Linked DNA regions of Homo sapiens. The protein of the gene in region 1 purifies or fractionates together with the protein of each later gene. This does not show direct contact. Each region holds a gene or a part of one and is shown in the gene's direction. Other genes may lie near its edges.

Region 1 (3,825 bases):
GTAGCCTCTTTTTCTTGGATTTCAGGTTTTCCTTTTTCTTGGTGTCTCCCTTATATTGGCAGAGTATGTTTTTGAGTAGCTTCCTGAGAGAGACAGAATGGGATGCACATATTTTGGGTTCTTGCATGGTCAACCATTTTTTTATTTAACCCTCACATTTATGATAACCAATCCTTTGATTGTGACCTGTTATATCTCTTTGGAAGCGTTTATATTTATTCAGCAAGTATGTATTGAGCACATTTTATGTGCCGGGCACTGGTCAAGACATTTTGAATATATAGGTGAACAAAAATACAAGATTCATGTCCTTATAGAGCTTAAATTCAGGGAGGGAGGAGTTGTTCAACAGCAAATATAATAAATAAATTATACAAAACATTGGGAGTTTGTAAAGTAAATAACTGCTTTAGAAAAGAGAAAAAAGAGCAGGCTGGGGTGGGAAGTTCAGGAATGTTGGGGAAAGGAGAGGTAGGGGATGCAGACTGTAGTATTAAATGGGGTGATCCTCCCTTCAACCATTCAGGTGTTCTGAAATTTCACAATGATGTTGGTTGGTAAGAGTTTTTCATTCATGTGTTGGGCCCCAAATGGGCCCTTTCCATTTGGAGACCATATCCGTGGTTTATTTGACAGTTTCTTCTTTCCCTCCCTTCCTTCTTTCTGGACTTCTTTTATTAGAATATTAAACCTCATTAGATTGATTCTCTAATTTCTAATATTTTCTCTCCTGTTTTCTATCCCTTTCTGTTCTGTTTTCTAGGATATTTTCTCAACTTTATTTTATAACACCTTGATTGCATTTTTAAAAATAAACATTTTATTTTGGAACAGTTTTAGATTTACAGAATTATTGCAGACAGTATAGAGTTCCTATATACTCCACACCCAGTTTATTATTAACATCTTAGATTAATATGGTACATTTGTTATAATTAGTGAACTAGTATTGATACTTTATTAACTAAAGGCTATACTTTATTCGCATTTCCTCATTTTTCCTCTAATATGCTTTTTCTGTTCCAGGATCCCATCCAGGATACCACATTACATTGAGTAGTCCTGTCTCCTTAGGCACCTCTTGATTGTGATAGTTCTCAGACATTCCTTGTTTTTGATGCTCTTGAAAGTTTTGAGGGTTACTGCTCAGGTGTTTTGTAGAATGTCAGTTGAGATTTGTCTCATGTTTTTCTCGTTATTATATTGGGGTAATGTGTTTCGGAGAGAAAGACAACAGAGATAAAGTACAATTTTCATCAATACATACTGTCAGTGTGACTTGCCACTTTTCTTTTTTTTTTGAGATGGAGTCTCCCTCTATCACCCAGGCTGGAGTGCAGTGGTGCGATCTCAGCTCACTGCAACCTCTGCCTACCGGGTTCAAGCGATTCTCCTGCCTCAGCCTCTTGAGTAGCTGGGATTACAGGCACGTGCCACCACACCCGGCTAATTTTTGTATTTTTAGTAGAGACGGGGTTTCGCCATGTTGATTAGGCTGGTCTCCAACTCTTGACCTTGTGATCTGCCCGCCTCAGCCTCCCAAAGTGCTGGGATTACAGGCGAGAGCCACCACGCCCGGCCAACTTGCCACTTTTAATGTTAACCTTGATCACTTGACTTGAGGTAGTGTTTGTTAGGTTTCTTCACTTTGAAGTTAGTATTTTCTTTTTTTCTCCCTTTCTGTATTCTTTACTAGAAAGTCACTGTGCGCTGCACACTTAAGGAATGGGGAGTTCTACTTCCTTGAGAGCAAAGAGTCTAAATAAATTATTTGGATTTTTTTTTTATTTTTTTGCGTGGGAGATTTGTCTTTTCCCCAATTATTTATTCAATCATTTACTTACGTCAGTATGAATACATAGATTTTTTTTTTTTTTTTTTTTTTTTTTGAGACAAAGTCTCGCTCTGTTGCCCAGGCTGGAGTGCAGTGGCGTGATCTCGGCTCACTGCAACCTCCGCCTCCTGGGTTCAAGCGATTCTCCTGCCTCAGCCTCACAAGTAGCTGGGATTATAGGCACGCAGCACCATGCCCGGCTAATTTTTGTGTTTTTAGTAGAGATGGGGTTTCACCATGTTGGCCAGGATGGTCTCGATCTCTTGACCTCAGGTGATTGCCTGCCTCGGCCTCCCAAAGTGCTGGGATTACAGGCGAGAGACACTGCGCCCAGCCGATTTTTTTTTTTTTTTTAATGTGTTGGGTTATACTTCAGTACTGCTCTTTTATTTTGTCCCAGCTTTGGCCTTTGGGAGTTCTTTCACTTGGGTCTTGTATCTCTTTGACATACTCCCATTGTTGTATGTGTGTACATCAACTTTTACTTTCTGGCATTACAAGATGCTCTGTGCTCATTTTGTTTATTTCCTGCCCTAGTTTTAGAAACAGCCATTTTTCCAAGGAGACTTGGTTCCTTTTGTTGGAGAATTTTATTAGAAACCAAGATCTGGGTGCTAAGTATGTTCGTTGCCCCTGGGATGTTACTGCTTCTAGGCCCTCTAAGCTGACAAACACAAGGAGATATGTTAGTATATGTGTTTATACTAACCTGTATTACACATATATCTGTAAATATTTCTATGTGTGACCATCGGTATCCATATTAAGCTGAACATGAATTTATATTGATGTCTTCAGTTCAAATCCATTACCATATAGATTATTTTATCTTCCTCCCCTGCCATAACCTCCTCCTTCAACAGGGAGAAACTTGGCTTCCACGATCAGTCGTCCATTTACTTACTTGTTCAATTTCAGTATACAGATATAGTGATTTCAGAATTGTTAACCTGTACCACCATGGAAAACAACTTTATCAACTAGGGTAGAGTGCCTGTCTTTTCTTTCTTTAGTCTTACATATTCCACTCATTTCCAAAGGTCAGCACCTTATTCCTACGTCCCCTGTGATGAGGTTGTTTCATACATTTGGAATATAGTTAGACTTTTTGTCGCAGTCTGCATGCCAATCTAGGATCCCCCATTCTCCTAAATAATTTTTTGAAAATTTGCATGTTGAGGTTTATTCTTTATGCTTTGAAGTTATATGGTTATTAACGTGATTATCTTATATTCACCATTACTACCCTAAAAAGTCTGTGCTTCACATATCCAACTCTCCCCCACTTTAAACCACTGGCTATCATTGGTGTTTTACTGTCTCTGTAGTTTTACCTTTTCTAGAATGTTACATAATTAGAATCATGTAGTATGTAAATTCTTTCACTTGGCAGTATACAGTAAGATTCACTCGTGTTTTTGTGGCTTGATAGCTTCTTTCTTTATATCACTGAATAATATTCCATTGGATAGATGTGTGATGGTTTGTTTATCCAAATACCTAATGAAGTACATCTTGATTGCTTCCAGTTTTTGGCAGTTATGAATAAACCTGTTTATATGCATTCACATCCAAGTTATTGTGTGAATGTAAATTTTCAAATCAGATGAGTAAATACCTAGTAGCACATGATTGCTGGATTATATGGTAGTAGTAAGTTTTGTAAGAGACCGCCAAATAGTCTTCCAAAGCAGCTATACCATTTTGCATTCTCACTGGCAATAATAAGATTTTCTCTTGTTTGGCATTGTCACAGTGACATTCTAGTAGATGTGAAGTGGATATCTCATTGTTCTAATCTGCAGTTCCCTAAAGACAAATGATGTTCAGCATTTTTCATATTCTTATTTTCCATCCTTATATCTTCTTTGGTAAGATGTCCATTCAGTACTTTTGCCAATTTTAAAATTGGATTATTTTCTTTCTTCTTTTCCTTTTCTTTCACTTTTTGCCTTTTCTCTCCTTTCCTTTCCTTTCCCCTCTTCTCTCCT
Region 2 (3,825 bases), on another chromosome or scaffold:
TCCTCAGTGACAGCACAGCCTGCTCAAACTTCATATTTAAGGTAAGTTTTGGGAGCTGTGTTAATTTTATATGTGTTAATTTTCCTAGATTTTCAGAATGAGAATATATAGACCCTTATTAAGATGAAGTTACAGAACTGTTTATTCATAATCCTGTGAAGTGGAATGGTGTTACCTTAGCTTTGCTACCCATACTGAGATTATTGCCCGCCCTTAAGCTTACAGTCTGCATCCTTGGGGCAAAAGCTAATTGTCCTTTATGAGACTAAGCCCATGATGTGCTTAGCACTGTGCTATAATCAGCCTGTGAAGTAGTCCCAGACTTATTTATCTGCATGCACTCCTAAAAATTAGAAAACTGTTGTTACTTTGACCCTTAAGAAGGGCGTTTGAACTGTGGAATTTGTAGTTCAGGTTTTTTTGTTTTGTTTTTTTGAGACAGAGTCTCCCTCTGTCACCCAGGCTGGAGTGCAGTGGCTAGATCTCTGCTTACTGCAACCTCCGTCTTCCAGGTTCAAGCGATTCTCCTGCCTCAGCCCCCTGAGTAGCTGGGATTACAGGCACGCGCCACCATGCCCAGCTAATTTTTTTGTATTTTTAGTAGAGACGGGGTTTCAGCATATTGGTCAGGCTGGTCTCGAACTCCTGACCTCGTGATGTTCCACCCGCCTCAGCCTCCCAAAGTGCTGGGATTATAGGTGTGAGCCACCACGCCTGGCCAAGTTTTTTTTTTTTTAAGACAAGGTCTCACTCAGTCGCCCAGGATAGAGTGCAGTGGCATGATCTCAGCTCACTACAGTCTTGACCTCCCGGTCTCAAGCTATCCACCCACCCTCATCAGCCTCTCCAGTAGCTGGGACTACAGGCAAGCACCACCATGTTCTGCTAATTTTTGTATTTTTTTGTCAAGGTGGGGTTTCGCCATGTTGCCCAGGCTGGTCTCAAACTCCTGAGCTCAAGGGATCTGCCTGCTGTGGCTGCTCAAAGTGCTAGGATTACAGGCATGCACCACTGCACCCAGCCCTATAGTTCTTTTTTTAAATAAAAACACTTTTACTCTAAGAGTTGTATTTAAATCTTTCTTTCTATTCATTTTGCTTAACCATACAAAATGTTCATTCAATATAATCATATGTAGATGATCTATAAGGTCTCTTCTCACCCTCAAACTCCATGAGTATGAATTTTAGATATTATATGAATATTAAATAAATCTGTTTATATTAGTGTTCAGTTAGAATAAAATATAAAATTTTGCTATGTTTGGTAACACTAGGAACTGTGGAGAAAAAACTGGTGTAGTTTTGAAACTAATTCTCTTTTATTGCAAGCAGTATATTTGGTGGAATTTAAAATTACATAATTTTTTTTATTGAAACTTTTTTTATAGATGGGGTTTTATCACCCAGGCTGAAGTACAGTAGTGTGATCATAGTTCACTGCAGCCTCCAACTCCCGGGCTTAAGGGATCTTCCAACCTCTGACTCCTGAGTAGCTGAGACCACAGGCGCATACTACACCCAGCTAATGTTATTAATTTTTTGTAGAGATGGGTATTGCCATGTTGCCTGGGCTGGTCTCAAAGCAGGCTGACCTCAAGCAATCCTCTCACCTTGGCCTCCCAAAATGCTGGGATTAAAGCCATAAGCCTCCAAGCTCAGCCCTAAAACCGCTGGGCATAGTATGTATATATATGTGTATACACACACACACACACACACACACACACATATATATATATATATATATTTTTTTTTTGGGGACGGAGTCTCACTCTGTCACCCAGGCTGGAGTGCAGCAGCATGATCTTGGGTCACTGCAAGCCCCACCTCCCGGGTTCATGCCATTCTCTTGCCTCAGCCTCCTGAGTAGCTGGGACTACAGGCGCGTGCCACCACACCCAGCTAATTTTGTTTTTGTATTTGTAGTAGAGACGGAGTTTCACTGTGTTAGCCAGGATGGTCTCGATCTCCTGACCTCGTGATCCGCCCTCCTCGGCCTCCCAAAGTGCTAGGATTACAGGTGTGAGCCACCGCTTCCAGCCAAAAGTATATATATTTTAAGAGAAATGTATGCCACAGTAGTTATAGGAACAAACAAGTCTTGCAATTTGGTGTGATTTTTCAGCTTAGTTTGTGAAGTGTCAATAAAGAAACTATAGTTTCGGACTATCCTGAGGGTTGATTTTGGGCCCTATACAGACTATGCTGTTTTCCTTTTAAAAGTAGAAAGTCCTTACTGAAGGAAAGCTTGAAGGATGTTTACAGAGAAGAGGTGGACTTCTTTGTGCTGGATTGGGAGATGGGGAAGGGAGAATATGGGCTGAAAGTGGCATCTTGAGCCAGGGCTCCATTCTCATTGCAAATGGCCAAGGGTACTTCTGTCAGGAACAGTTTGCATCTCCTCAGGTGGTTTCTGAATGTTTTTAGTTAGAGATTCTGGAGAAGGGAAGTTAAATTGGCCTTAGAATCTTACATTTTGTTTGTTTTCAAGTACCTCTCTCTTCTTACCAAATATAAAAATTACATTAACAAGCTCGGCATGGTGGCTCATGCCTGTAATCCCAACGCTTTGAGAGGCCAAGGCCAGAGGATCACTTGAGCCCAGTAGTTTGAGACCATCCTGGGCAACATAGCAAGACCCAGTCTCTACAACAAAAATTTTTTTTTAATTAGTTGGGACTAATTTAAATTTTTTTTAAATAGTCCCAGCTACTCAGGAGGCTTAAGGCAGGAGGATTGCTTGAGCCCAGGAGTTTGAGAATGCAGTGAGCTATGATCTGCACCCCAGCCTGGGCAACAGAGCAAGATCCCATCTCAAAAATAAGAAGAAGAAAATTTGATTAACAGTATTCAATGGCTGGAATGATTAAATTGTAATCAGAACAGCAGAGCTACGTAAGCTTAAAAAGAAGATGGAAAAGGCATTTTTGTCATGATGATTGATCTCTAACCTTATATATTGCAAAGTAAATATGGTTTTCTTTTTAAAATTTTGTTTGTAGCACTGGACAAGACACTGTTTCCAATCCTACTTATATGAACCAGAACTCTAACCTACAGTCAGCTACTGGTACAACTGCTTACACACAGCAAATGGGGATGTCTGTGGATATGTCATCTTATCAGAACACTACTTCCAATTTGCCTCAACTGGCAGGCTTTCCGGTGACAGTTCCAGCTCATCCAGTTGCACAGCAGCACACAAATTACCATCAGCAGCCTCTCCTTTAGAAACAAATCAAGCATTTTCTTGAAAGCCTTCATAAGTGTATTATTCAGTCCTTGTGATACCAACCTGAAAATATTAAAACTTTTTTCCCTCTCAACTCAAAAGGACCATGAATAAATAAAGCACAAAAACCTCTCTTATTCTACAAGGCCATAAAAGGTTTTTTTTTTTTTTTTTTTTCAGTCCAGTTTGTTTGAAGTCAATCTTTTCATCAGAGGCAGCTTAAAGATGCTTTCAGTTAGTTTTGTCTTACTTTCAGATTTCTCTACATAAATCTAGATACTCATTAAGTAGCCTTATGACAAACAGTATGAGATACTTATGACAAACTCGCTCTGTCACCCAGGCTGGAGTGCAGTAGCATGATCGACAGAGTGAGTTTGTCAAAAGTATCTCATACTTATAAACAGTATGAGATAGGAGGATTAAAATATTATTTTAAAGAAACCACTGTTTCCCCCTAAAATGTCATAAGAGCACTGAAGAACTTGAAATATTTTTTTCAGAGTTTCTCACACACTTTAAAAGTCTAACTTTTTTGTGTGTAAGCATTTAGCTTGCCAGCATATTTCTTTTTGGCTCCTTAAATTGCGG

What was found.
Region 2: the proteins of ZFYVE16 (region 1) and STAM2 purify together in Homo sapiens (affinity purification with western blotting, with the first as the bait; one study listed by BioGRID). This does not show direct contact.

Annotation. Positions count from the first base shown.
Region 1 is NC_000005.10:80,414,385-80,418,209, forward strand, and holds part of ZFYVE16 (zinc finger FYVE domain-containing protein 16), read left to right. Parts: intron 1-3,825.
Region 2 is NC_000002.12:152,119,982-152,123,806, reverse strand, and holds part of STAM2 (signal transducing adapter molecule 2), read left to right. Parts: coding exon 1-41; intron 42-3,004; coding exon 3,005-3,233; 3' UTR 3,234-3,825.